4 linked regions of the Homo sapiens genome follow. The protein of the gene in region 4 purifies or fractionates together with the protein of the main gene of each other region. This does not show direct contact. Each region holds a gene or a part of one and is shown on either strand. Other genes may lie near its edges. The genes, in order: STX12, NAPA, GOSR1 and STX6.

Region 1 (7,029 bases), about 150 Mb from region 4:
CACACCACCACGCTAATTTTTGTATTATTAGCAGAGACAGGGTTTTGCCACGTTGGCCAGGTTGGTCTTGAATTCCTGACCTCAAGTGATCCGCCTGCCTCGGCCTTCCAAAGTTCTGGGATTGCAGGTGTGAGCTACCATGCCTGGCCTATTCACTTTTTTTCTGTTTCCTTTGATCCTCTTGCCTATCCCGTCTGCCCTGAAACTTTCTTCTTGCCATGATTCTCTTTCATTGTGTCCCCCAACTCTGGAGATCCCCAGGTTGAGTCAGCCTCCTTCCCGGACTTCATATCCTCCTAAGAGTGGGCATGCCCCAAGGTTGTGCCATTGATCCTCGAATTATTTCACTGTATGCTTTCTCCTTAGGAGTCACCTGCTTTTATGACCTCCCTTTCACCTTTATGATCATGACCTCAGATCTTTTTCCAATCTAACCCCTTCACCTCTAAGTGCGTGGCCCATATCTTCAATTCATGTTCTGACATCTCCTCCTGAAATAAACTACCTTCATATAAAACTTGTCTTATACTGAGTTTCTCATGTTTCTCCCAAACCCCTTAACTAAGTTCATTGACAATACTTAACATCACAGAAAAGTTTGTGCCTTTTGACCTAATATTCTCACTCATGCTAATTAGCCCTAAGGGGAAAAAAAATTCTGAAGGTAAACACACACACACACACACACACACACACACACAGAGTCTATATACTCTGGAGCCAAATTTCCTGGATTTAAATCCATCTTTGTCACTTACTGTGTGATCCTGGGCAAATTACATAGCCTCTGTGGTGCTTTGGTTTTCTGATGTGTAAAGTTGGGACTATAATAATGCCTAATTTATAGGTCATTGTATAGATAAATGAATTATTATGTAAAGCACTTACAGTAGTACTGGTACAATTTAAGCACTATATAAATATTAGCCATTACATTGGGGCTTACTTTATAATATTTAATAACTGTGAAAAATCTAGAAGGATTATTTACATAAAATTTAGGTCAACTTGATGGAATATATGTAAGCGATTAAAGATCATGGCCGGGCACAGTGGTTCACACCTGTAATCCCAGAACTTTGGGAGGCTGAGGCGGGTGGATTGCTTGAGTACAGGAGTTTGAGACCCAGCCCGGGCAACATCTCTACAAAAATTAGCCAGGCACGGTGGCTCATGCCTATAATCCCAGCACTTTGGGAGGCCGAGGTGGGCGGATCACCTGAGGTCAGGAGTTTGAGACCAGCCTGACCAACATGGCAAAACCCCATCTCTACTAAAAATACAAAAATTAGCCAGGCGTGATGGTGGCCACCTATAATCCCAACTACTCGGGAGACTGAGGCAGGAGAATTGCTTGAACCCAGGAGGCGGAGGTTGCAGTGAGCTGAGATTGTGCCATTGCACTCCAGCCGGGGTGACAGAGCGAGACTCCCTCTCAAAAAAAAAAAAAAAAAAAATCGCGCCACTGCACTGCAGCCTGGGTGACAGAGCGAGACTCCATCTCAAAAAAAGAAAAAAAAAAAAACTCGTGCCACTGCACTCCAGACTGGACGACAGAGCGAGACTCCGTCTCAAAAAAAAAAAAAAAAAAAAAAAATTAGCCAGGCATCGTGGTACACATCTGTAGTCCCAGCTACTCAGGTGGCTGAGGTGAGAGGATCATTTGAGTCTGGGAGGTTGGGGCTGCAGTGAGCTGAGATCACACCACTGCACCCCAGCTTGGGTGACAGAGCAAGACCCTGTCTCAAAAAAAAAAAAAACAAAAACATAATTGTGAAGAGTATGGTAACATGGAAAATGTTTATGATGTATTTAAAAGTTATGATAATATTTTTGCACGGTAAGGTTAGGGAATGATGTCCTCCCCGTTATTGTTATAATTTTGTTTATGCAAAAATAAAAATCTCAGAAGAAAAGGGTTGCTCATCTAAATTTGCTTTTAGTATTACCATCACTCTTCCAGGTTTGAAATTTCAGTCATTCTTGACTTTATCTCTCTTTCCCCACCACCAGTCAAAATGTTTCTTAAATTCATTTCTTTATGATTTTATTACTGATACTGTGTCCTCCTAACCTTAAACCTAGACTATTGAATTAGTGTTCTGTTTGACTTGTTTCTTTTTTCCATTCCACCTTTGTGTAAACGGTGACCCAGGTCTCATCACAGACTAATTTTTCTAAGTTACTATTTTGTACCCATGATGTTTCTTGCTCAAAAATCTTCATTGCTCTTTGTTCTTTAGAGGTTGAACCCCAAACTCATTAGCTTGTTTTTTTTTTTGTTTTTTTTTTTGAGACAGAACCTGGCTCTTTTGCTCAGTCTGGAGTGCAGTGGCGCGATCTCAGCTCACTGCAACCTCCACCTTCCAGGTTTAAGCAGTTCTCCTGCCTCAGCCTCCCAAGTGGCAAAGGACTACAGGCGCACGCCACCACGCCTGGCTAATTTTTTGTATTTTTAGTAGAGACATGGTTTCACCATGTTAGCCAGATGGTCTCCATCTCCTGGCCTCGTGATCTGCCTGCCTCATCCTCCCAATAGCTTGGCGTTTTGTTTTGTTTTTTGAGACGGAGTTTCACATGTGTTGCCCAGGCTGGAGTGCAATGGCACGATCTCAGCTCACTGCAACCTCCACCTCCTGGTTCAAGCAATTCTCCTGCCTCAGCCTCTCAAGTAGCTGGGATTACAGGTGCCTGCCACCATGTCTAGGTAATTTTTTCTATTTTTAGTAGTGATGGGGTTTCACCATGTTGGCCAGGACGGTCTTGAATAATTCCTGCCCTCAAGTGATCCACCCACCTTGCCTTCCAAAGTGCTGGGATTACAGGCATGCGCTACTGCGCCCGGCCTAGCTTGGCATTTAAAACCTGCTGTGGTTGGCCCCTTTCTTAACTTTCCAATTTTGTATTTTAGCTACTCTCATTACTAAACGTGTAGTTCCAACCAAACAGTCTGTCTAGAGATCCTCTTCAAGTTCTGCCACCATGCCTTTGCTCACACTATTCTCTTGCTTGGATTTGCCTTACCCCTTCTTTCTGCTTATTCATGCCTTCCTCTTACTTCACTGTCCACCTTCTCTTGAGGCCTTTCTTGGCCGCTTGAGTTCTTACTGATTATTCCTGCCCTCTGAACTCCTGTAGTACCAATTGGATATAGCAGTTATTTATAATAACTTTGTTACTTGTCTGTCTATATCCTTTATTTACAAATAGACAGCTGTTTGAGGTCAGGGGTGAGTTTTTACTTCTGTGTTCATAGAACAGGACAATGCTGTCAGTATGTGGTGTGTGTGTGTGTGTGTGTGTGTGTGTGTGTGTGTGTGTGTGTTTTGTTTTGTTTTTTCAGACAGAGTTTCACTCTATTGCTGAGGCTGGAGTACATGGCATGATTTCAACTCACTGCAGCCTCAACCTTCCAGGGTCAAATGATCCTCCTGCCCCAGCCTCTGAGTAGCTGATGTGTACCACCACGCCCGGCTAATTTTTTTATTTTTTGTAGAGATAGGATTTTGTCATGTTGCTCAGGCTGGTCTTGAACTCCTAGGCTCAAGTGATCCTCCTGCCTCAGCCTCCCAAAATACTAGGACTATAGGCATAAGCCACTGTGCTCAACCTCAGCATATGTTTTTTGAGACATAGAAGTAACAAGCTTAGTAGAGGTAGTCTGTAGATAAATGAAGTACTTACCAAGTCTCAAAGATTTTAAACCACTAAAAGCCTGTGAAATGCTTCTATAGTTTACAGGGAAGCTGTGAATTCAATATAGATGAATAGGGTTTTAACATTTTAGCTAAAACCCATCTCTGTTTGGATTCAACTGGAGTCCAGAGGTATTTATTCTCTTTTATATTCTCCAGGGCACCAAAATTCTGAATTGCAGTTCTTTGGAGATTACTTTAGAAGTTAAATACAGGCTGGGCACAGTGACTCACGCCTGTAATCCCAGCACTTTGGGAGGCCGAGGCGGGCAGATCACCTGAGGTGAGGAGTTCTACAATAGCCCGGCCAACATGGCGAAACCCCATCTGTACTAAAAATACAATAAAAAATTAGCCAGGTATGGTGGTGGGTGCCTGTAATCCCAGCTCCTCAGGAGGCTGAGGCACAAGAATCGCTTGAACACGGGCGGCAGAGGTTGGCAGTGAGCTGAGATCATGCCACTGCGCTCCAGCCTGGGCGACAGAGCAAGACTCCGTCTCAATAAAAAGAAAAAAAAAAAAAGAAGAAGAAGTTAAATGCAACCCAGTTCCAGGTTTGTCAGAATGAAAGAAGAAAAATTCTGACTTGGTCTATAGTATTAACCAGGGACTTGAGCTAGCAAAGAGCAAATTTATTAATTTAAAGAAGAGACTATTTCATAATAATTTTCCTAGTTGGAAATCTTTAAGGGGTATAATTTTACTTTTAAGGGAAATTAAAACCAAATGATTCTGGGTTAATATGAAATCTCAAGTTCTTGCTTGATTTCCTTAGCGCCAGCAGAGACTTCAGAAGGAACGCCTCATGAATGACTTCTCTGCAGCCTTAAACAATTTCCAGGCTGTGCAGAGAAGGGTATCTGAAAAGGAAAAGGAGAGTATTGCCAGAGCAAGAGCTGGATCTCGTCTTTCTGTAAGTTGATTCCCAAAAGAAGACCTTTGCAATATCAGAATGTTCTTTTCCAAGTTTGTGGGTTTTTTTCTTTTTCTCTTTGACCAATAAACATGTAAGTTAGCTGCTGTGAAAATGGCAGGTTGGTGTAACCTATGTAAAAAACATATATGCATGTGATCAAAGCCTAGAAAGGAATCTGAATGAAGGTTAAGAGATATAGGAGGAAGAACTATGTCTAATTTTCTTTTTCATTTTGATATATTGGTTTTAACGTTAAAAACTTGAAAATAAAAATAATGAATCTGTTTCCTGGAATATAACAGGCTAGTTTATTTGGACTAGCCCTCTGTTTTTGAAAAGGATTTTCAAATACTGGATTTTAAAAATCCAACTTCTCAAAAGTATCAAAGATTATGAAAATATTAAGGTAAAGCCTGAGAGGTCAGCAGAATACTGAAACTGCTTTTGCATTGAATGTCTTTACTGAAGGCAAACTTGAACTTCAGTTTTGATATCCTCATGGCATGGGGAGGATAAAAGTCAAAGCCAAAGGTCCATGCAAGAGAGAGAATATAAAAGAAGGTACAACTCAAATTAAACTGGGCCCTAAGAGACTATATCCTTAGAACATTAAGTCAAAAGTAAGCTCTTCTATCCCCCGGCAGATTACAGAAAGATTGCATTAGCACTGAACTGAGCAGATGGAGGAGGAGGGCAGGAGGGAGGAGAAATCTAGACAAGGTTACCACAAAGTAACCTTCTTCAGGCAGATTTTCTGCTCAAATTCATCCTACCTGAATGGTTCAGTGGTCCTGGACTGGGAGAGCCACCTATGTGTGGGATAGAAGCAAACACAAATTCCTTCTGTAGAAAGACACCTTTATCCTAGCCCTGAAATAATACTCTCAAATAATTTTTCTAGGGCAGTAAGTACCAGTCACTAAAAATAACCATGTGTGCAAAGAAACAAATTACTCTGAACAAGAATTAGTAGAAACAACAATGAAGTGAAATATACCTACAAAGACTTTTTATATTAGAATTATAAGACAACTATACTTATTGTGTTTAAAGACATAAAAGGCTGAAAACCTCTGCAGGAAACTACACAAAGATTTGAAAAAGTGTCAAAAGAATTTCTAAAATGGAAAGATATAATATAGAAATTTAAAAACTTAGTGGATGGGTGGTTTAACTAAAAAATTGGTTAGAATATATTATCCAGCATGTAGCATAGGGGGTTAAGAGGTTAAATACGGAAGAAAGATTATGAAAAATGGAGAATGGAGAGAAAAGATCTAACGTAGTTTTAACTGGAGTTATAGAGTGAGAATAGGGCAAACATAGAACAGAGGTGATATTTGAAGAAATAATGAGTGATAATATTCTAGAACTGATTAAAAACACTAGCCTGCAGTTTCAAGAAGCCTAACAAATCCCAAGCAGGATAAATAAAATCTCTAATCTAGATACATCAAAGACAAACTTCAGACCAGAGACAAAGAGAAAAATCATAAAGATAGCTAGAGAAACATTAGAATACCTTCAAAGATACAATAGTTAGATTGACAGTTGACTTCTCAACAACAGTGGAAGCCAGTAGAGTGCTATCTTGAATGTTGATGAAGGACAATAACTGCCTACCTAGGATTCTAAACCCAGTGAAAATATATGTCAGAATGAGGGCTAATTAAAGACATTTTCAATCAAAAGAGAGTTTTCTGTCAGCACATCTTATTGAAGGAAATTCTAAATAATGTATTTCAGATGGAAGGAAAGTGATCTCAGATGGAAAGTCTGAAAAGCAGAAAGAAATGAAGAACAAAAAAAGTGGTAAAGATGTGAAAAGACTAGTCACAGGGAGAAGACATTGCTATATATATTTAATAGCAAAGGACTAGCATTTAGAATATATAAAGAATTCGGCCAGGCGTGGTGGCTCACACCTGTAATCCCAGCACTTTGGGAGGCCAAGGTGGGCAGATCACGAGGTCAGGAGTTCAAGACCAGCCTGGCCAACATGGTGAAACCCTGTCTCTACTAAAAATACAAAATTAGCTGGGCGTGGTAGCGCGTGCCTGTAATCCCAGCTACTCTGGAGGCTGAGGCAGGAGAATCGCTTGAACCAGGGAGACAGAGGTTGCAGTGAGCTGAGATTGTGCCCCTGTGCTCCAGCCTGGGCGACACAACAAGATTGTATCTCAAAAAACAAAAAACAAAACAAAAAAAACCCCAGAATTCCCATGAATCAATATGAAAAAGAAAGATACAACTCAATAGAACAAAAGTTGTCAAACTTTTTAATCTCAGGAACCCATTACACTCTTAAAAATCATTAAATTCTGTGGCCGGGCGCAGTGGCTCATGCCTGTAATCCCAGCACTTTGGGAGGCCGAGGCGGGTGGATCACCTGAGGTCAGGAGTTCAAGACCAGCCTGG
Region 2 (7,029 bases), on a different chromosome or scaffold from region 4:
TGCCACCTTGGTGGCTCTGGGTGGGGAAGGGTGATGCTCATATGTGTTATTGGTTCCTCAGTTACCCAACCATGGCTGCTGCTCAGGGCAGACTCGGGCCAGCGAGGCCTCTTCCCAGGCCTGCCTGATAGTTGGGGGTGGGGGCAGTGTGTGTACCTGGGGCAGAGAAGCGACCTGGCCCCTGCTTGTCCCCCACTTCCTCCCCAGCTGCCATTTACTGGGTTTCTACTGTGTACCAGATGCTTGGCATCTTTTAACCCATTTGATTTCTTTGTGCATTCTGTGATTTGCCCCCATTTTACTAAGGAGGAGATGACCAAGTGTAACCAGGAAGGGCTTCAGAGACGCAGAAGTCAGGTTGGGCGTCGCTGGTAGGAGTGACTGCGGGGATGGGCGGTGGCCTGGGCCATAGCTCCCCAACTTGGGCTGTATTGCTCTGAGCCCCTTTCCAGCCCTCTGTGGGTGGGTACAGGAGGGGCCAGGCCACAGAACTGGGTGTTGCTCTGCCTGTCCGAGTGCACAAGGCCTGGTGACCTGAGATAAGAGTAGCAGTCATGAGTGTGTCAGAAGCTCGTCCAGGAGCCAGCTGTCCCAGGTGTCTGCTGGTGGCCCGCCGCTTTCCAGACATGGAGGGGACTTAACCCCGTGAGTCCATGTTGCTGCCTGGGGGGTAAGCTGTCTCCCTGCTGCTACTGCAAGGACTGTGCCATGCTGACGGCGGGTGCTCCAGAGCCAGTGCCAGCAGGCCCAGGTGGCAGCTGCAGATCTCACTGCTCACTGCGGAGCAGCAGCCTTTGCCGCCTCAGCCCACAGGGTGCCAGGTTGGTGTCCTGGGTGTTCCGGCCAGGAGAGTGAACCAGTGAGCAGCCCGGGGCCTCCATGTGGAGACTGCAGCCAGGTGGGGCGGGGCAAGGCGGGCCTCTCACCTCACTCCAGCTGCTGCTCTCCTCTGCAGCGTGGCCCGGCTTAGCCGTTGCTTCTGGGTCCGCCGATTACAGGATGTATGTGTCTTCAAACTGCCGGATTTAGGTTGTGTTCTCTCCCCTTCCTCCTCATCTGCCCCCTTTTTGCCACCGTTTCCACTGTCTGCTGCCACAGTCTCGGTCTGTCAGCCCTAGAACCTGGACTGAGTGCTGTACCTTCTCTCAGTCCCTTTTAGATCCCCAGAGGTCTTTCTGAATTGGACAAAACCTACAGACCCCACTCCCCAGAGGAGTGCTTATGGACCCCACTGTTTACATGTCAGAAGGAGGGGTTGGACTCCCTGAAAGCCCAGCCACAGACCTGAGACAAAGAGCCTCTGTCCAGATGCCTCCCCACGGAGGGAGTTTGGAGTCCCATCCAGACCGTGAGCCCCTTGAGAGGAGCCCAGCCCCGGCGCTTCTTGGTAGCACCCTCTTCTCAGGCGAACATGGCCTGGGTGACCATGGAGACCCCCACGGTGACCAGGAACTTTCAGATGCCCAGGCTGAAGCTCAGAGCCCATGCCCTGTGGCCTGTCCAAGCTCCCTGCCTTTCCCTCTCCCCAACCCAGGCCTCCCTCCCCACAACACCCCTGTCCTCCTGAGATGTGCTAAAATGGTGTTCTTAAAAAATACCCCCTGAGAGCTCATTTCTGTCTGCTAGAAAATGCCTCCCACTCATGCTTTTCTCTCTCCTCCAAATAACTTGTCAAAAAAAAGCCTTTCCCAAATTTAAAATCTTGCAAGAGATAGTACAACAAAGGTAGCCCAGTTCTTCCTCAGTGCCATCCTGGTGTGTTCAGGTTTTTTGGCAAAACCTTTGAGGAGCTGGTGGGTGGCAGGACTAGGTTAAAGGGACTGAGCAGAGGGCTCCCGACTGCTGAGCTACGAGGAAGAGGGGGCAGTGGAGAGCACACTGAGGGCTCAGTGTTGATGACATCCAGCCTCCTCGTGCCAGAGGTCCAGGTCCTCCTGGTGCAGGAGCAGAAGCTGCTCAGGATCCTGCAGAGATGGTGGCAGAGCCCAGGTAGAACCTGGCACCCTGTTGCCTCCAAGACCACCTCAGATGCTGGTTTGGCCGCCTCCCATGCCTCCTTCCCCTTTGCCAGCAGCTCAGTCCTTCAAGAGCAGGGCCTTGGCAGGTCTGTCTTAAAACACCGTGGGAGTCTGGCCATCATCCTGGCCTAGCACTGCTGTGCCCTGTCCCTGGGGTTGTGGGAAGCTGGTAGCATCCTGGCAGCCCGAGGAGAGAAGGGCTCCCCCAGAAGCATGTGCCCAGCAAGTCACAGTCTGCAGAGTCAGCCCTCTCACCAGATTTCCTGGGGCTCAGGGATTCCGTCCCCTTCTTCCCAGCCCCTTGAGAGTGTGTGGCAGCGCTGGCAGCTCTGAGCGCCTATTGATCTCTCTGCTGGCAGCCAGGTGCGCCTGCGTCCGCCTCCTCTCCTCAGCTTCTGCTGAAACGACTTCACTTTCTCATGTCTCCTCCCACCTCCCTTTCTCTCCAGAGGCCATTAACTGTTTGATGCGAGCAATCGAGATCTACACAGACATGGTAAGGGCTGCTTGCTTGTCCTGACACCCCCGGGTCCCACTGCATTGCCCCAGCCTTGCGTCCCCTCTTTCAGCACCCCCAGCACTGTTCTTATTCTGCGGCCAAACCACTTGGGGAGGGGGAAGTGGGAGCTGGGGGGATTAGGTCACCTGAGCTGGCCTGGGCTGGCTGGGTCTTCACCCAGCTCCCCACCAGCCTGACGGCCCCCTCACTCCACAGGCAGTCATGGTTTTCATTCATAGAACTTAGGTTATTGAGCTGGGCAGGGTGGCTCATGCCTGTAATCCTGGCATGTTGGGAGGCTGAGGTGGGAGGATCTTTTGGGCACAGGAGTTCGAGACCAGCCTGGGCAACATAGCAAGACCTCCTCTCTACAACAAATTAGCCTGGTGTAGTGGCATGCACCTGGGGTCCTAGTTCTTGGGAGGTTGAGGCAGGAAAATCGCTTGAGTCCAGGAAGTTGAGGCTGCAGTGAGCTGTGATCACACCACTGCACTCCAGCGTAGGCGACAAAACAAGACCCTGTCTCAAAACAAAAAAAGAAATTAGGTTACTGGAGAGTGTGTGTCCGGCACTTCCCCTTGCCCAGCCTTCCCGCAAGTGTCACATTTGATAAGCATCTTGCAGCAGGCCACAGGGATAGGCAGAGCCCACAGGAGGCTCAGCACCTGCCCTGCCCCCAGGGCGCGTTGCCAACGACAGATGCAGACCAGATGGGCAGCTGCCAACTGGAGCCAGAGTGAAGGGTCCCACCCAGGCCGGGGCTCCTGTCAGTGCTTTCTCTCTCTCTCTTTTTTTTTTTTTTTTTTTTTTTGAGACAGAGTTTCTCTCTCATCTAGGCTGGAGTTCAGTGGCGTGATCTCCACTCACTGCAACCTCTGCCTCCCAGGTTCAAGCGATTCTCGTGCCCTAGCCTCTCGAGTAGCTGGGATTACAGGCGTGTGCTACCATGCCTGGCTAATTTTTGTATTTTCAGTAGAGATGTGGTTTCACCATGTTGGCCAGGCTGGTCTCAGACTCCTGACCTCAAGTGATCCACCTGCCTTGGCCTCCCAAAGTGCTGGGATTGCAGGCATGAGCCACCGTGCCTGGCCAGCTCCTTTTTGCCTCTCCGCTTGCCCTGTCTGTCTCAGCCCTCCAACCCCAGGCAGGGACACGAGCCCTACCCCTTGCGTTCAGGGCAGTGCTGCAGGGATGACTGTGATTAGAACAATAATAGCAGCTGCCATTTATTAGGCCAGACACTGCAGGGTGGTTTAATCCACAGCCCTGTGAGGTTGGCATTATTGTCATCCCCGTTCCTTAGTGGAGGAGAGGGGCTCAGACAAGTGACATGATTTGCCCAGGGACATGTGGCTACAAGCAGGAGTCACTGAGACCCGAAACAAGGTCTGGCTGAGCCCAGGGCCTTGCCCTTTCCTACTGCCCTCAGCAAGGGGGTGGCGTTGGACCAGCCCCTGGTGCAGAGCAGTTAGGCAAGCGCCTGGACACTGGGTGGAGGCGGATGGAAGGTGCGAGGCCCCTTGGAACCTGAGGCCTCCCTGGGGAGCTCTGGGTGTGCCTGGGGGAGGCTGACAGATAGGTGTTGGCCTGGGGGCAGAGCTGGTACTCTTGGGCAGAGGTCTCAAGCCCTCCCTCCCATCCTGGTTTCTCCAGAGCCCTTTGCCAAGTGGCTCTGGACTGGTCCTTCCGCCTCTCTGGCTGTTATCAGAGGCTTCCTAAGGGCCAGGGCCTTGGCCAAGTGCTCGTGCTCACATTCTCTCTGGTGTCACACCATCTGTGCCCTCGTGGATGGGATGGAATTAGGCTAAGGCCCTGGAGTGGCTTGTCCAACATCACCCGCTCAGCCCAGCACGCATAGCCAGGCCTCTAGTGCTGGGGCCCTCCCTTCTCACTCCTGTGTTCCCCCACCTCTCGATCTTCTTCACACCTCAGGTCTTCTTCATACCTCCTCACAGGCGTGGCTGAGGGGTGGGAACTTGAAGGGTCATAGGTCAGCAGGCAGGCACGCAGGAGGTCATGAGTCGCAGGCAGCCCCTTCCTGTGTCCCCTCCAGGGCCGATTCACGATTGCGGCCAAGCACCACATCTCCATTGCTGAGATCTATGAGACAGAGTTGGTGGACATCGAGAAGGTGAGTGGCAGCAGGGCCCTGCATGGGCTGGCAGCCAGGACCAGTGCTGCTCTCTCTTCTTCCCACCAGGGGAGTCCTCTGGTGTCTGAGTGCCGAGAAGGGGGCATGGGGCGCCGGCAGAGCTTGGAGAATGGGGTCTGGCTGTGTCCCAGGCAGGCAGGGCGGAGGGTGTGGAAGCTTCACGGAGGCCTCCTCTCCCTTCCCTGCCCTCCCCTGGAACCCATCCCCCGTGTCTCCCCAGGCCATTGCCCACTACGAGCAGTCTGCAGACTACTACAAAGGCGAGGAGTCCAACAGGTAGCCCCCTTCCTGCCTGCCCCAGCCCCGCAGGGACCGCCACCACTTCCCCTCACTACTCCTCCCCACACAGCTCAGCCAACAAGTGTCTGCTGAAGGTGGCTGGTTACGCTGCGCTGCTGGAGCAGTATCAGAAGGCCATTGACATCTACGAACAGGTGGGGACAGGTGGGGATGGCGGCTTCCACCCTGCCCCCTCTCAGGGCCTGTGCCTCCTCCTAAGCCCCGGCACCTTGTTCTGGAACCACCCCTCCCCCGGCTCACCCTCTGCCTCTCCCCCGACATCCCTTGCCATGTCATCCCCCCACCCTGTCTTCAGCCTGGCTGAATGTTCTCCACCTACGACTCCATGCCGTGCCAGCACCGTCTCTCTCCCTGGCTGTGCCCCTCCCACACCCCTCGCAGAGCTTCCTGGAGGGGCCCAGAGTGAGGCTGGCTAAAGAACCCAGAGGGAGGGAATGGGAAGAAGTGCCAAGAGGCCCAGGGTGGCCGTGGGCACCCCACCCCATGGCCCGATGGTCCTCATCCACAGTGGGAGGGAGGGAGTGTCACATGGGGTCCCCCCAGCGTGCACGGAGCCCTGGGTGATGGCCGAGAAAAAGGCAGGCAGCTGGCCCCCTGGGAGAGAGGGGCGGGCGCCGCCTCTCATGTTCCCACCGCCTGCCGCCGCTCTGCCCACCGCCATGCCAGCCTCCCGTTGGTCCTGACAGCCAGGCTGCCTCCTTCCCACTGTCTCAGGCTCTCAGAAGGCCCACGAACACCTGGCTACAGCCTCCACCCCCACCCAGCCACCATCACACCCTGATCTTGGTCGCTCACGCACTGGCCGCTGACCTCTCCAAGCTGGTCCCTGGCTCCCTGCCCTTGGGGTCCTGGGTTAACAGGGCCTCACCTCGGGACATGAACCAGCTCCCAGCTGGCCCCCCAGTGCCTGGCAGTGGCTCTGGCCCTCTGGCTGCTTGCCCTGAGCTCACCAGTGCCACTTCTCCATGGCTACAGGTGGGGACCAATGCCATGGACAGCCCCCTCCTCAAGTACAGCGCCAAAGACTACTTCTTCAAGGCGGCCCTCTGCCACTTCTGCATCGACATGCTCAACGCCAAGGTAGCACACCCCACGCCCGCAGGACCACCGCACCAGGCCACCATGTGCTTATCTCCAGGCCAGGTCCCGTTGCCCCCGAAGAGGGACGTGCTCCTCCCTCACGTCTGGCCCCTGCCAGCCAGCCTTTGGATGAGAAGTGTGGTTCTCACAGCTGTGTTTCTGTGCTGGCATCACCTGCCCACCCAGCCCTGGAGGCTTTTGCGGGTCCAGCTCCTGCCTCACTTAGTGCTCTTTCCTTCATGGGTGCACTTTTTGAATCCTCACTGCACCCCATTAAAGTCAGCACCATTGTCACCGCGTCTTATGGGTGAAGATGGTGAGGCTGGGACGAGAGTCCCTTGTTTGAGGCCACATGACTAGGGACCTGCAGCCCCAGTGTTCCAGATCTTTGTGACTCCTGCTGTCGTGGCTTTAGCTGTAGCTCACACATGCCCACCTATTTTCAGGACACTTGGCAAAAGAGGGGCCAAAGAGGGCAGTGGGAGGGGGCGTGGCCAGCGGGAAGGAGCTGGAGGGTTGGCGCTAGATTTTGCTTGGCCGGAGTTTTTTTACCATTGCCTGGCAGAAGCACGGAGTCCAGGATTTCCTGGTGTCCCTGGCTCACGGCCTGGGGTGGTGGCCCCACACACCCCACACACACACACCCCACAGAGCCCTGCCCTGCTGTGGGCACCGGTGGTGGGCAAAAGCTTGGGCTTTGTCAGACCAGGTTCCCATTCCCACCCCATGTCTCACCGTGCCCTGGGCAGGTCACTGCCCCTCTCTGGATCTGTTTCCTCACTTTGAAAAGGGGGCTCACCGTCATTTGACCCTCTCAGGGTCCTCAAGAAGCACCAGCCCCAGGCCTGGCATGGAGGATGTGCTCATTTGTCCCCTGCCCCAGCTGAGCCAGGTGGGAGGAGGCAGTGGGTGCCTATCTGGGGAACCTTCCCCCTCCACCCACCTCTCCCTGCAGCCATCTCTGCAGCCAGGCTGGTGCT
Region 3 (7,029 bases), on a different chromosome or scaffold from region 4:
TTCCAGACCAGGGTGTGAAAGCGGTGGCTGTCAAGAGTCCCTGAAGATGTCCCATCAATGGAACGCATACAGCAGCAACAGGATGGTACAGATCCCAATAACACCCCCTAGGATGAGCGAGTCCCGCCGCTTCCTCAGGTTGATCCTCTGGATCAGGCTGTTTACAGCAGGAAAACGATCTTTGGGAAATCTTTATTAAGGTCATATTTGGAAGAAGCCTCTCTGGCGAAAAGTCGTAGGAATCACAAAAATAGAGATCAGTGGTGTCTAGAAACAGTGATGAAAGGCATGGGGAAGAAACTCACACCAAGGGAATCTTTAGCAGATGCAGTTGCCCAAACCGGGAACGCGCTGCGGCTCAAGGCCCCTAACCAATACACATCTCCCAGTCTTGTGTGTAACACAAATAAGAATAGTAATAGAGAGAGAGGGAGAAGAAAAGGACGATGACAGTTCCCAAGCACTGAGGGCTTACTGCCAGGCTTCAGGTCAGGGTGGGAGCCAGCGTGGCCAGGAATGGAGGAACTCTGGCAGGGAGGCACAGGCATAGCCAGCTCCCATCGCCACCACCACCCATTTCCCTCCCTTTCCTCATTTTCCTTCTCTTTTCCTCTTCTCTCAGGAGACTGGGGAGTTCTGCCTGAGAGTTTGAAGAAATACCTGATCTTTTCCCGCCTTAGATTCAGGCAATTCATGGGAACCAACTCTAAGGTCTATATAATCAGACACTGGTGAATTATTAATATTTTCAAAGTTACTTCGCAGCAGAAGGCAGATACAGGAGGAAAGTGGACTAAACTTTAGCCCTGACCCACACCCATTTTTTTTGATTTTTTTTTTTTTTGAACACATTCTTTTGGAGTAATTGTAAAATTCCCATGTGACTTATTTGTATGAGGCGCTATGCTAGGTTCCAGTATACTACTTTGCCTTAAGGGAACTTAGTGTTGGGCTGGGCAGGGTGGCTCACACCTATAATCCCAGCACTTTGGGAGGCCAAGGCTGAAGGACTGCTTGAGCCTAGGAGTTTGAGACTCGCCTGGGCAACATGGTGAAACCCCATCTCTACAAAACATACAAAAATTAGCCGGGCATGGTGGCACGTGTCTGTAGTCCCAGCTACTCAGAAGGCTGAGGCGGGAGGACTGCATGAACCTGAGAGGCTGGAGGTTGCAGTGAGCTGAGATCGTGCCACTGTACTCCAGCCTGGATGGTAACAGGGTGAGACTCTGTCTTAAAAAAAAAAAAAAAAAAAAAAAAAAAAAGAGAGAGAGAACTTATGGGAGAGATGCTTACAGAGCAGTAGAGAAGAGGTCACAAAGAAGAGTGGTGGTAAATTCTAATGAACAATTGAGAAAGGCTTTAGTGTTTTAAATCATCAGCTATCTGACTCACACTTCTATTTCAAAGTTTCAAAAGTTTCACTAAATACAAACTCTTAAATTCACTGATCAGCTTTTCTGGCTGGCAATTGAGTTCATAGTTTAGTAAAATGAGATAATGTATATAACAGCACTCTGTAAATTTTATAGCCCTATCTAAAATGTGATTTTAGACATGTGGTTTTATACTTAGGGTGACAAGGCAAGAACAAAATTCACAGTGGACTGGAGAATAACAGCACACATCAGGAGAGTCTTTTCCTTAGGCAAAGACATATCAAACTAAAAGTGAACTCAAATTATCTAGGACTACAAGATACTCAGCTTTTGAAAATTCTAGGTTCCTCCCCCTTTGGCAGTTGGGGAGGAAAGCTTTTTGCCTAGAAGGCTTGTCTTTTCAGAGGTTCGCTGAATGAAATGACTCAGAGTGCCAGGCTTTTCTGGTTCCCTAGTGGGTTTCTGGGAAGTATTAATAATCCTAATTTAAAACAGAAAACTGAAACATTTTAAAGTAGAGGTTACAACAAACAAGTGGAGAATGTATCCTAGAATTCAGCCTGTGCATAGAGTTACAAACTCCATCAGTAGCTATAGCTCATCTGCACGGGTGGCTGTCTCCTTCCTTCCCCCTTCCAAGCATCTGCCACTGACTTATCTCTAAATGGGAAAAACAACAAAGGCATATAATTTATCATGTTTAGGTAAGAATAATGTATAGTGTGGAGTTCTAACATGAATTTAAAAGCTTTCTAAAATGTAGAAGAAATTGGTGGATAATTTTTAAATTCACATTTATAATTTTTTTCTTCTACATCTAGTAGTAAGAAACTTCTGAGGTGCAGTCTTTTAGGAATGGTACTAAAGAGCATAAACTTTCACAAAGTAGGAATGCACAGTATATTCATATTATGCAATTACTGATGGGCTCTACTGCTACTGATGATGGCAACCTGCCCCCTATAAAAGCACACACAGACACTTCTCCCCTCTACCCTCAAAACACAGACTGCGAACATTCAAAAAGGATACTGGCCAAAGTGTTCATTTTGCTGTGAATTGACTTCAACATTCCTCTCTGTGAAGTCATATTTTCTTTTGTTGCCATAGCAATGCTGCAAGGGGAAAAAAAGATGACAAATCACCATTTAAGATTATCCTGCCTGGAACCATCATGCCTTTAAAAGTGAAAGAAAACTACAGTGAGCAACATCATCTTAGAAAGCACTGTGCCAGAAAATAAGGGGAAAAAATCACTTCCGAAGCCACTTTACCACTGCGCTTTTTCCAAATGACTCCACTGTTCTCTGATATCTTTTTATACAAGGCAGTAAGCCACTTCCTATGTTTGCTTCAAAATAACAAACAAAATAAGGCATAAACAGACAAATCACATATTACAAAAGCTTCTTAAAATTTAAAGTTTAAAAACTTTAAAAAGTTTAAAAAGAGTTTAAAAAGAAGCCAGCTACTAAAATATCTTTAATCAGGAAAAACTGTTGAAAGGGAATTATAATTATAAAAATAGAAAAGAAATATAAAATATCATAAAATGTGAATACACAACCAGCCCTTAATTTATGAAGAGATTATGTTCCAAAATTCTACTTGAGAACCAACTAGGCATGCATGCAACATTATGCTGGGTTTCCATGATGGCTGACAAAGGTCACAGACTCATTAAACGTGGCTAAAACAGCTGGGTGTGGTGGCTCACGTCTGTAATCCCAGCACCGAATTTGGAAGACCGAGGTGGGAGGATCACTTGAGCCCAAAAGTTCAAGACCATCCTGGGCAATGTGGTGAAATCCCAACTCTACCAAAATAAAAAATTAGCTAGACATGTGTGCCTGTAGTCCCAGCTACTCGGGAGGCTGAGGTGAGAGGATCAATTGAGCCCAGGAGGGGGGGGCTACAGCGAGCTGTGATGGAGCCACTGCACTCTAGCCTGAATAATGGAGCGAGACCCTGTCTCAAAAAAAAGAAAAGATTAAAGAGAAAAGAGAAAGTCACTTTTGGTCGAACACAATCTCTTCCCTGTGACTACCTTGATGTCCTGTTTAAAAGATCTCTTGAGTTAATATCCTTTTTTTGGGGGGGGTTGGGGGTTGGGGGACAGGGTCCTGCTCCGTCACCCAGGCTGGAGCCCAGTGGTGTGACTGTGGCTATTGCAGCCTTGACTCCCTGGGCTCAAGCAATCCTCCCACCTCAGCCTCCTGAGTAGCTGGGACTACAGGCATGTGCCATCATGCCTGGCTAATTTTTTTTTTCTAATTTTTAAATTATTTCTAGAGATGGGGTCTCCCTATGTTGCCCAGGCTGGTCTCAAACTCCTGGGCTCAAGCCATCCTCCTACCTCCGCCTCCCAAAGTGCTGGAGTTATAGGTGTGAGCCACCAAGCTTGGCCCTAAGTTAGTATCATTTTGCTATCACTTCCAGGATTATTCATTTCCCATAGTCTTATCTCTCTGGACATTAGAGCCCTAGAGGGCAGGGTCAGTATCCACTTTGATATGTAACACTCAGAGGAGTGCTTTGCATGTTGACATTATAAATAGCAACAGAAAATGAAATGCTGTTGAGCAATTTTGAAAATATCTATTTTTTTTTTTTTTTAAATCAAGAGATTGAGATTTGGGGAAGATGATGGTGAGAGTATAAATTCCTGACTTGACCTTTGGTCCATTTCCTCCATGGAGTAGCACAAGAATAAAAGCAGACACACTAAGGAGGGTCCATCTGAGGCCCCAAGTTCCCTTGAGATCTCCAGGGAAGAAAGCCAGGTAGAGGGCTATACTCTCTGAAGTGAAGAGAGAACCAGGGAACTGACAGCAGGGAAGCTTAGATTTTTCTTCAAGCTTGAGGCAAAGACCTAGGGCTTCCTTGCTTCCTGAGGAACCCAGACAGTGGAAGACTATGGATCTGCATACACAGGGGTTGCAGTGAAATTGCTCCCAGGCACTGAAGCTGGGAAAGGACTGCTACATGCAGCCAGAAAGATGACAAGCAGAGAGCCGATAGTCTTGTAGCTGGTGTGATGCCCAGCCCCTAAGGGAAGAGCCCAGTGATGGATGCATCACTGCCTGATATGCCATTGCTTAAGAGGCTCTCATAGCTGGATCTATCTGGGAGCTGAGTGAACACATTTTTGGCCAGGTAAGGTCTCACAGAGTAAACCACCATGTATCTTATTGAAGGGAAATGCTAGAAGGAATATTCTAAACAAATGACACATGAATCAAAACTTGAATTTCAAGATTTGAGATGGCAAAAGAGAAACAAAAGTGTGTAAGGAGGTATATACAGGTTGAACATCCCTAATCTGAAAATCAGAAATCCCCAAGACTTCTGGTCCCAAGTATTTTGGATAAGCAACATTCAATCTGTAAAAGAATATTTGTTGAAGCATTTTTGGAATAGTAAAAAATGAACAACAACAGCAAAAAGACCAAAAAAAAAAAATCCCCCAAAACTGGAAGTAACATTTGAATGGTATAATAGATTATGATATAACCATACTTTGGTTATTAAAAAGGATGAGTTAGTATTATTTCTATTAACACGAAGGGGTGTTTATAACATATTGAGTGATTAAAGCAAGCTACGGAATGTGCAGAATATCAATGCTGTAATATTTTCAGAAACAAACACCCTTGGGGATGTTTGTATGACAGTGAAAAAGTTGTATATCAGTAAGATACACAATTGTCACTTAACACAAGTTACTTCAGAGGTTAAGAATGGAGGGGTACTACCAGGAGATTGACTTTTCCTTTATCCATTTTAGTATTAGTTAAGTTGTTACAATAAGAACATTTTGATAATATACAAATGTACTTCGATAATATATAAATATCTAATAAAGAAAAATGAAAAGAACATTAGAAAAATCCCACCTGAGTGATTAAGAAATGTTAACAACATCTGAAGCTACACACACACACAAAATTAACATGGACATGCTAGGATTTAGATCACTTTCAACTGAAATCACAGGCAGTGATTACATAGTATTTGGGTATTTAAAAAAATGAGTTAGGGCTAGGCGCGGTGGCTCATGCCTGTAATCCCAGCACTTTGGGAAGCCAAGGCAGGTGGATCACTTGAGGCCAAGGAGTTCAAGACCAGCCTGGCCAACATGGTGAAACCTCTTCTCTACTAAAAATACAAAAATTAGCCAGGCGTGGTGGTGAGCGCCTGTAATCCCAGCTACTGGGAGGCTGAGGGTGAAGAATCACTTGAAGCCCAGGAGACAGAGGTTGCAGTGAGCTGAGATCGCGCCACTGCACTCCAGCTTGGGTGACAACACAAGACGCAGTCTCAAACAAAACAAAACAAAGTTAGTATTTCTATTAACTTGAAGGGATGTTTATAACATATTGAGTGATTAAAGCAAGCCACAGAATGTATAGAATATGAATCCTCTAATAATTACAGAAACAAACATCTTTGGGGATGTCTGTATGACAGTGAAAAAGGTATCAGAAGGATACACAACTGTCAGTTAACACAAGTTGCTTCAGGGGTTAAGAATGGAGGGGTACTACCAGGAGACTGACTTTTTCTTTTTCTTTTTTTTTGTTTGAGACGGAGTCTTGCTCTGTCACCCAGGCTGGAGTGCAGTGGCGCGATCTTGGCTCACTGCAACCTCCGCCTCCCAGGTTCATGCCATTCTCCTGCCTCAGCCTCCTGAGTAGCTGGGACTACAGGCGCCTGCCACCACGCCCAGCTAATTTTTTGTATTTTTAGTAGAGACGGGGTTTCACCGTGTTAGCCAGGATGGTCTCGAACTCCTGCCCTCGTGATCCGCCCGCCTCAGCCTCCCAAAGTGCTGGGATTACAGGCGTGAGCCACCGCGCCCGGCTGACTTTTTCTTTATCCGTTTTAGTATTATTTAAGTTGTTACAATAAGAACACTGTACTTGTATAATATACAATATACAAGTGTCTAATAAAAGAAAAATGAAAACATTAGAAAAATTCCACTTGATTAAGAAACGTTAAATAACATTTGAAGCTACACACACAATTAACATGGACACACTAGGATTTGGATCACTTTCAACTGAAATCACAGGCAATATCTGCAAATTTAGAAAATGAAAAGTCCTAGAGAATATTACAGTTCTTCCAGGGTCCTGATTTCCTATGTGTTTTAATGCTGACAATCCCATCTTCCCAATACTTTTAGGCCTATTCTAGAAAAATATCTGTTCATGTGGAGATATTATGGTCTGGTCTTTTGAAATGACATTTCAGAATAAAGAAATGTAACTGGGTAAAACTAAAACAAACAAAAAAATACATTAGCAGCTCCAAATCCACCACTGTGATGCACCTCAATAAAATTATGAGTCAAGCAATGATTTTAAAAAGTTTTCCACAGATCTCAGAAATGCTCAAGAATGGAAGGGATCACTCTCTCTGAGGGCAGAACTGTGGAGTAGGGTTAAAAATGGAGATTTGTAGAAATTTGTACAAGGAGTTGCCATAACCCAAAATTGCCCTTCCTAACGCATGCAGCTAGGTGGCTGCCCCTAGTCCAGTAGAAGACCTAGCTCAGGAGAAGAGACATAGAGGTCTGGCAATTTGAAGTCCCCAGTGAAACAGCCAGGTCCGCCTGATCACGCATGGTGAGGCCTAACACTCA
Region 4 (5,675 bases):
ACCCGCCACCACGCCCAGCTAATTTTTTGTATTTTTAGTAGAGATGGGGTTCACCGTGTTAGCCAGGATGGTCTCGATCTCCTGACCTCGTGATCTGCCCGCCTCGGCCTCCCAAAGTGCTGGGATTACAGGTGTGAGACACCGCGCCTGGCCAGTCTAGGGTCTTATGTGACCAGCTGCAGAGTAAGTACCTCTAAGCTATCCATGGTCCCTGCCAGGTCTATAGACTCTACAGAGAGCACCGCTCTCATGGGTTCATGTGTACCTGTCTGGTGGCCTTGTTCCGTGTGTTTAGCCTCTGCCCAAGGCATGGATGAGTTACATGCAGTTAGTGGTGAGATCCTCATGCTGAAGCCAGCCTCTGTGCCCCAAGAAGTCATGGGCTATGATCCAAGAATCTGGGAAGTAGAGGTCTTACCCTCAGGCTTGGGTGGCTCTTTGTTGCATTTTGTGTTATTCTGCTATATGATCATTCTAGTAATTCAGTCCTTTTCAAGTTGAATTCTTTTCAGGTTGTTTTATTTTCCTTTTCCGGAGACTTTTGTACATACTGTTGTCCTGAGTAACAGTATCTCTAAGCTGAGTTACTCTGATCGGAGCTACTGAAAGGTACCTGCTTTCAGCAAATTCTGGTTTGGTTTTATTTTTTAATCAAAAAAAAAAAAAGGAGAGAAAGAAAAGAAAGACCACCCCCTATTAGAAGCAAAGGCCCTGGGAGGAGTAAGGCCTGTCACTGGGGCAGGGGCACTGTCCTCAGGGGCGGACTTTGCTCAGGGATGGCGCACAGTGACTGCGGGGGCTTAAGTCCGGTAACCCTTTGGTTTTATTTCTTTTTATTCTTGATGGGCAAAAAGCCTCCTTTAAAAAACATTATTCTTAAGAAACCTGGGAGAGAAAAAAATGCCAGTGAGAGGAAGACAAAGAAAAATTAGAGGCAGTACATTCCATATTTCAGAACTTTAGCTTTCCAGACAGTCCAATTTTGTTTTGTTTACAAATTCATCTTGCAGTACAAGGTGAAGCCAAATGGTACAAAGTCCACAGAATTGAAAAGCCATTCATATTTATCATTCAATTTTTTGATCTTCAAATGTTATGAATTCTCCAAAAAGGTAACAGGGAACAGATATCCCTTTGGTCTCACTTTATAGACAGGGAAATTACCAAAAGAAAAATCTTGGCTCTACCATCTCTACTTACAGAAGGTAAAACACTTAACAGAGACAGATTTCTGTTGGAGTTAGACTAGATTTCTTTTCACAGCCCTTAATCTCACGAGGTGAGAAGGAGTGGAAGTTGCCAAGTTGTTGGCTACCAGACCCATCAGTCTGTTTAACTCTGGCTAAAAGCAGAGAATAATGGGCAAGTTACCAAGTTTCCCCCTTCAGCTCTGGCGTGCATTCTGAAATTGTGGAAGATCCTCATGTAACACACACGCTGCAACCTGCATTTGCCACACAGTCCAGGGCATATAGAGCATTGTGATTCTTCACAGTCCGCAGAGACAAGACCAAAAATGAGGACTAAAAACTAAAGGTAGCTGAGTTTTTCAGATGGATTTTCACTCTGGCAAACTCAGTAGTTCACTCCCTCCCACCCCTCAAATCATTTAAGTAAAATGTTCTTCCAATAAACATAAATTGAGCTCTTCCTCTGTTATCCATCACATTCTGCCAGTTCTTTAAAACTGGAATATGGTACTAGGTACAGAAGGCTAAAGGGGTAGGAAAGCCCCAAATACTATAAAGATGCACTTATAAGCAGTGTGGGGTTATCACCACTGTCTACTTACTCTCCCATTCTAGGACACAGGGTGAAGAGACCACCTGGGTTCCCTCTAAAGCCCTGAACATTAGGACCACTGAGGAGGAAATATTTGTCCTTAAAAATAAATGTAGGTTCCCTGGATTGTTCTCTTTGGCTGCCACATTTGGAGCCTGAGTGGAGGCCCTTCAAATTAACACTGGTTCTGTAGGGACTGCCCAGTCAGGGTGCAATGGGATCAGACACAGGATCAAATCAGCCAGGGGCAGAAGGGCATGGTGGCCCTACGGGTAGAATGCACTGTATTGTTAGTTAACTTTCTAAATTGTTCTCTATTTAGCTTCAGCCTGAGTCAGGTCTACAATGGCCACTATTTAGAAAATAATTTAAATCAGTGAGGTAAGCACGCCGATTTGAAATATATCCAAACATCATTAAGCCTCTGGGTCATAAAACTTGGTCCCTGAACTAACAGGAGTATCTTACTCATTAATGACTAGGTTTGTTCCAAACGGCCCCTGCTGACACACATGATCCTTTTGTGTGGCACAATAAATCTGGTAATAGCAGAACAATAGCATGGCTTTTAAATAGGGTAATTTTATAATTCCTTAAGATGCTGGTTTGCTTCTTATAATGTGTTGTGTGGATTACAGTACTTAGACAAGGTTCACATTTACTTTAAAAGACTTCTATATTTTAATGCAAATCTAAGGATCATCCCCTTTCTTAGTTTATAGAAGATTCAAACTTTGTAAAACATAAATAACCTAGTACTCTAAACATCTGAAGCCCTTTGTAATACTCACTGTTTTTTCCTAATTTGAAAATAACTTATTTATATATCAAACATTAGAGCGGAGTGTAAACATGGATGTCAATCACCCTTTTAGTTTCATAAATTTGCTTTTAGCTTTCATCAACAGGCATATTTTCTTAACCTACCATGATCTCAAATGAGATAAAATATCCTTCTTCAAAAATTGTTAAGAATATTTATTAAAAAGTGCAATTCAAAAGTTAGCTGGGCAAGCACATCATTGCAAATCACAAAAAAGGGTGAAAAAACCAAAACCCCCAAATAAAACCACATGAAATACAAACAAAACAAAACAAAAAGGTTTAAAAAAAAAGTGTGCTGAGGAATGCACCCAAAAAGACAAGGAAATGAGAAGTCAAAGCTAGAACTCTATCCAGATGTTGCTGTTCTTTCCAAGTGCAAAAGAAGGTGGTGAGGAGAGACCAGCAGCCTCCACCACCGAGTTCTGGCTCTGGGTCCAAATACTACTTTAATATCAGATTATTCATCAGGGAAGTTATAAAAATATCCTATATACATGTGCACATTTGAGGCATTTTAAAAAGTCATCAGAAGGTTAAAGTTTAGTGTCTCAGCAGTTTCAGCTACTTAAACTCAATTAAAGCATCTATCATTTAAATTTGGATTGGCTCAGTTATTTGACTGCAGATGATAAAATCAAGCTGTCATCTTAGGGAAAAAAAAGAACCAAGTTTACCTACACATCCTTGCCATTACCCACAGAGTAAGAGAAGTCTGGCCCAGAGCTAACCTTTTATGTCATTACGTTTCTTAATAAATGTAATAAATGTACTAACCACTCCCAACCCCAACCCCCAGTGTAGAGTGCCCTAAGAGTAAAAGAACTGTAATGAGGACAATCTGGTATCCAAATTCATTCAAGTGTGTTACTGAGCTGTTTAGCAACAACATATGTAGCAATCACCCTCAAAACGCAAGCTGCACCTCTGGGGAGGAAGCCCTGGTACAGCAACATCAAGTCGGCAAGGATCAGGAGCTGACCTGTGGCGACATCATTAACCCTTCCCTAAGCTATGCCAATGCAGAACCCTCTTGCTCTTTTTAATTGCTCCTGTCAGTTAAAGCCACAAGTTGTTAGCACCCCCAAACCCCAGGGTGTTTCATTATTTTCCATTAGTTATTCTTACCACAAAAAAAAATGACCTGGAAAAGCAATTTTATCTTAGCATTTATCCCTGAAAAATGAAACACTGCATTTTCTGTCACAAACTGTTTCTGAGCCTTCTGTCCTCAATAATCATCAGCTCTCAGGGGATAAGAAATGCTACAGCAATGGGAAACGAAACATACCCAGAAGCTCGTATTCCTGACAGGTTTCTTTAGATGGGACAGCGGTGCACTGTCTGAGCACGGGGAAGGGTCTGAGCAGAAGAAAAGAGCTGCCAAAGATGCATGGAATGAGCAACAGCAAAACACCAGTGGAGTCTGTAAGTCCCTCCTCAGCAAACGAGGTCCCGGAAGGCAAGGCAGCAGCTAGTTCTCCTCCGAACTGGACAGGCGGCATGGGGCTTCTGTTGTCCAGCTGCAGCCAGGAGTGCAGACATCTATTTCCTCTTCCCACTGGCCCTTCCAGCGCTGGGATGGAGGAGCCATGTCAATTGTGGGGTCACACGGAGAAAAGTCAGTGCAGCAGTATGTTTCCAGGATAGGAATGTGAGTAGACGGCAATGTCACACGTGCTCAGCTTCTCCTCCTCCCCTCGGTTCATATGCAGGAGGAACTCGCACCCAGAGGCCCCGCCGTCACAGCACTAAGAAGAGGATGAGCACAACCAACAGGACTGCAAAGAGGATGGCTATGGCACACCATTGGCGCCGATCTGGAAGGCAGGACATGGGGATTAGCTCTCACAGGGACTCCACATTCCCCAAGATACAGTTATATGGAATTTATGGCACCCTTTGAAGCAGAAAAGGGGCAGAACGTGCAAATGACGGGGCCATGATCTTACACCTGCCTAGGTGCCTGATGCTCTAATGCTGCTCTGTTCTTGGCCTGCACTTCGCATGCAGTCACAACTTTGCCAGTCCCCTGAAAATGTCTCGTAATAATTACATGCTTTGTGTCTCAAGTCTTTAATTAAAATCTGCGGATCTTAGCTTTCTGCTGGTAGTTAGCATATCCTCAAAAAAGGTGTTGGCAATGGTGTTACAGATCAAAGCCTGCCTGCTTTAATCTCCCATAAAAGTCAAGTCATTTAATTAAACAATAATCACATTCTTTTCTCAATGAGCACAACGGGAGGAGGGAAAGGAGATGAAAGCTACTGCTGGTCACTTCAGGAAATATACAGCTGAAAAAGCAAGCTCCAGTGAGACAGCATGATTAATTTCACACCACACCTAGTCAAGTAAGATTACTTAACTAGTAACTGTGTTAAAGTACCTTGTACAGCTCCTCTGTAAATGAAAGTGGAATTTTTTTTCTGAAACTTTCTGCCCTACCAACAATTTGGAACAGCAGGCACAGGAAACAACTTGACTAGAGTCCATCCAAATGGCTGAGAGCAGGGAGGCCCTGTGAGACAGAAGGGCCCAGACAGGCCCTGGGGGAGCCCTGCTGCAGCTCACAATCCTGTGGTCCCAACTCTACAACAGCTGCCCCGCAGGGCTGTTGTGAGAATTAAACAACACAACCCTGTCATACACACACTGTGCAATACCCAAACCTAGGGCACAGAGGATGCTGTCAACATCAGGATGCTTCCTTAATTTGGAGACATGTAGAAAAAATGAGCAGTCCTTCCACTGATGAGTTTTGGCATCTTCCACAAAGGGCCCGACTGATAACAGAATTCACTAGCGTATGAAAATGCAGTACAACCACTAGGAATAAGAGTTCCATTTAAATAGAAATATAAAGACATATTGATTCACTAAAGTTTCTTTGAAAGCCCACTGATTTTAGCACACTATAGTTATTGAGAATCACGTTGCAAAAAGATCTCAATCTATGAAAATAAACTGCTAAACTCTCCACAAGGCAAAACATGTACTTAAAATTATTTTAAATATTATGGATATCAAAGTCTTAGAACTGGACAAGAGAACTGCCACCAAATTATAAGTAA

What was found.
Region 1: the proteins of STX6 (region 4) and STX12 purify together in Homo sapiens (affinity purification with mass spectrometry; 6 studies listed by BioGRID and IntAct, with this or other methods). This does not show direct contact.
Region 2: the proteins of STX6 (region 4) and NAPA purify together in Homo sapiens (affinity purification with mass spectrometry; 4 studies listed by BioGRID and IntAct, with this or other methods). This does not show direct contact.
Region 3: the proteins of STX6 (region 4) and GOSR1 purify together in Homo sapiens (affinity purification with mass spectrometry; 3 studies listed by BioGRID and IntAct, with this or other methods). This does not show direct contact.

Annotation. Positions count from the first base shown.
Region 1 is NC_000001.11:27,797,208-27,804,236, forward strand, and holds part of STX12 (syntaxin-12), read left to right. Parts: intron 1-4,470; coding exon 4,471-4,608; intron 4,609-7,029. UniProt on the Homo sapiens protein: SNARE promoting fusion of transport vesicles with target membranes. Together with SNARE STX6, promotes movement of vesicles from endosomes to the cell membrane, and may therefore function in the endocytic recycling pathway.
Region 2 is NC_000019.10:47,491,035-47,498,063, reverse strand, and holds part of NAPA (alpha-soluble NSF attachment protein), read left to right. Parts: intron 1-2,467; coding exon 2,468-2,514; intron 2,515-2,919; exon of another isoform or gene 2,920-3,036; intron 3,037-4,462; exon of another isoform or gene 4,463-4,570; coding exon 4,571-4,648; intron 4,649-4,889; coding exon 4,890-4,945; intron 4,946-5,018; coding exon 5,019-5,103; intron 5,104-5,944; coding exon 5,945-6,049; intron 6,050-7,029. UniProt on the Homo sapiens protein: Required for vesicular transport between the endoplasmic reticulum and the Golgi apparatus. Together with GNA12 promotes CDH5 localization to plasma membrane.
Region 3 is NC_000017.11:30,515,404-30,522,432, reverse strand, and holds part of GOSR1 (Golgi SNAP receptor complex member 1), read right to left. Parts: intron 2,495-7,029; coding exon 2,412-2,494; intron 180-2,411; coding exon 55-179; 3' UTR 1-54. UniProt on the Homo sapiens protein: Involved in transport from the ER to the Golgi apparatus as well as in intra-Golgi transport. It belongs to a super-family of proteins called t-SNAREs or soluble NSF (N-ethylmaleimide-sensitive factor) attachment protein receptor.
Region 4 is NC_000001.11:180,972,223-180,977,897, forward strand, and holds the end of STX6 (syntaxin-6), read right to left. Parts: intron 4,425-5,675; coding exon 4,348-4,424; 3' UTR 503-4,347; downstream 1-502. UniProt on the Homo sapiens protein: SNARE promoting movement of transport vesicles to target membranes. Targets endosomes to the trans-Golgi network, and may therefore function in retrograde trafficking.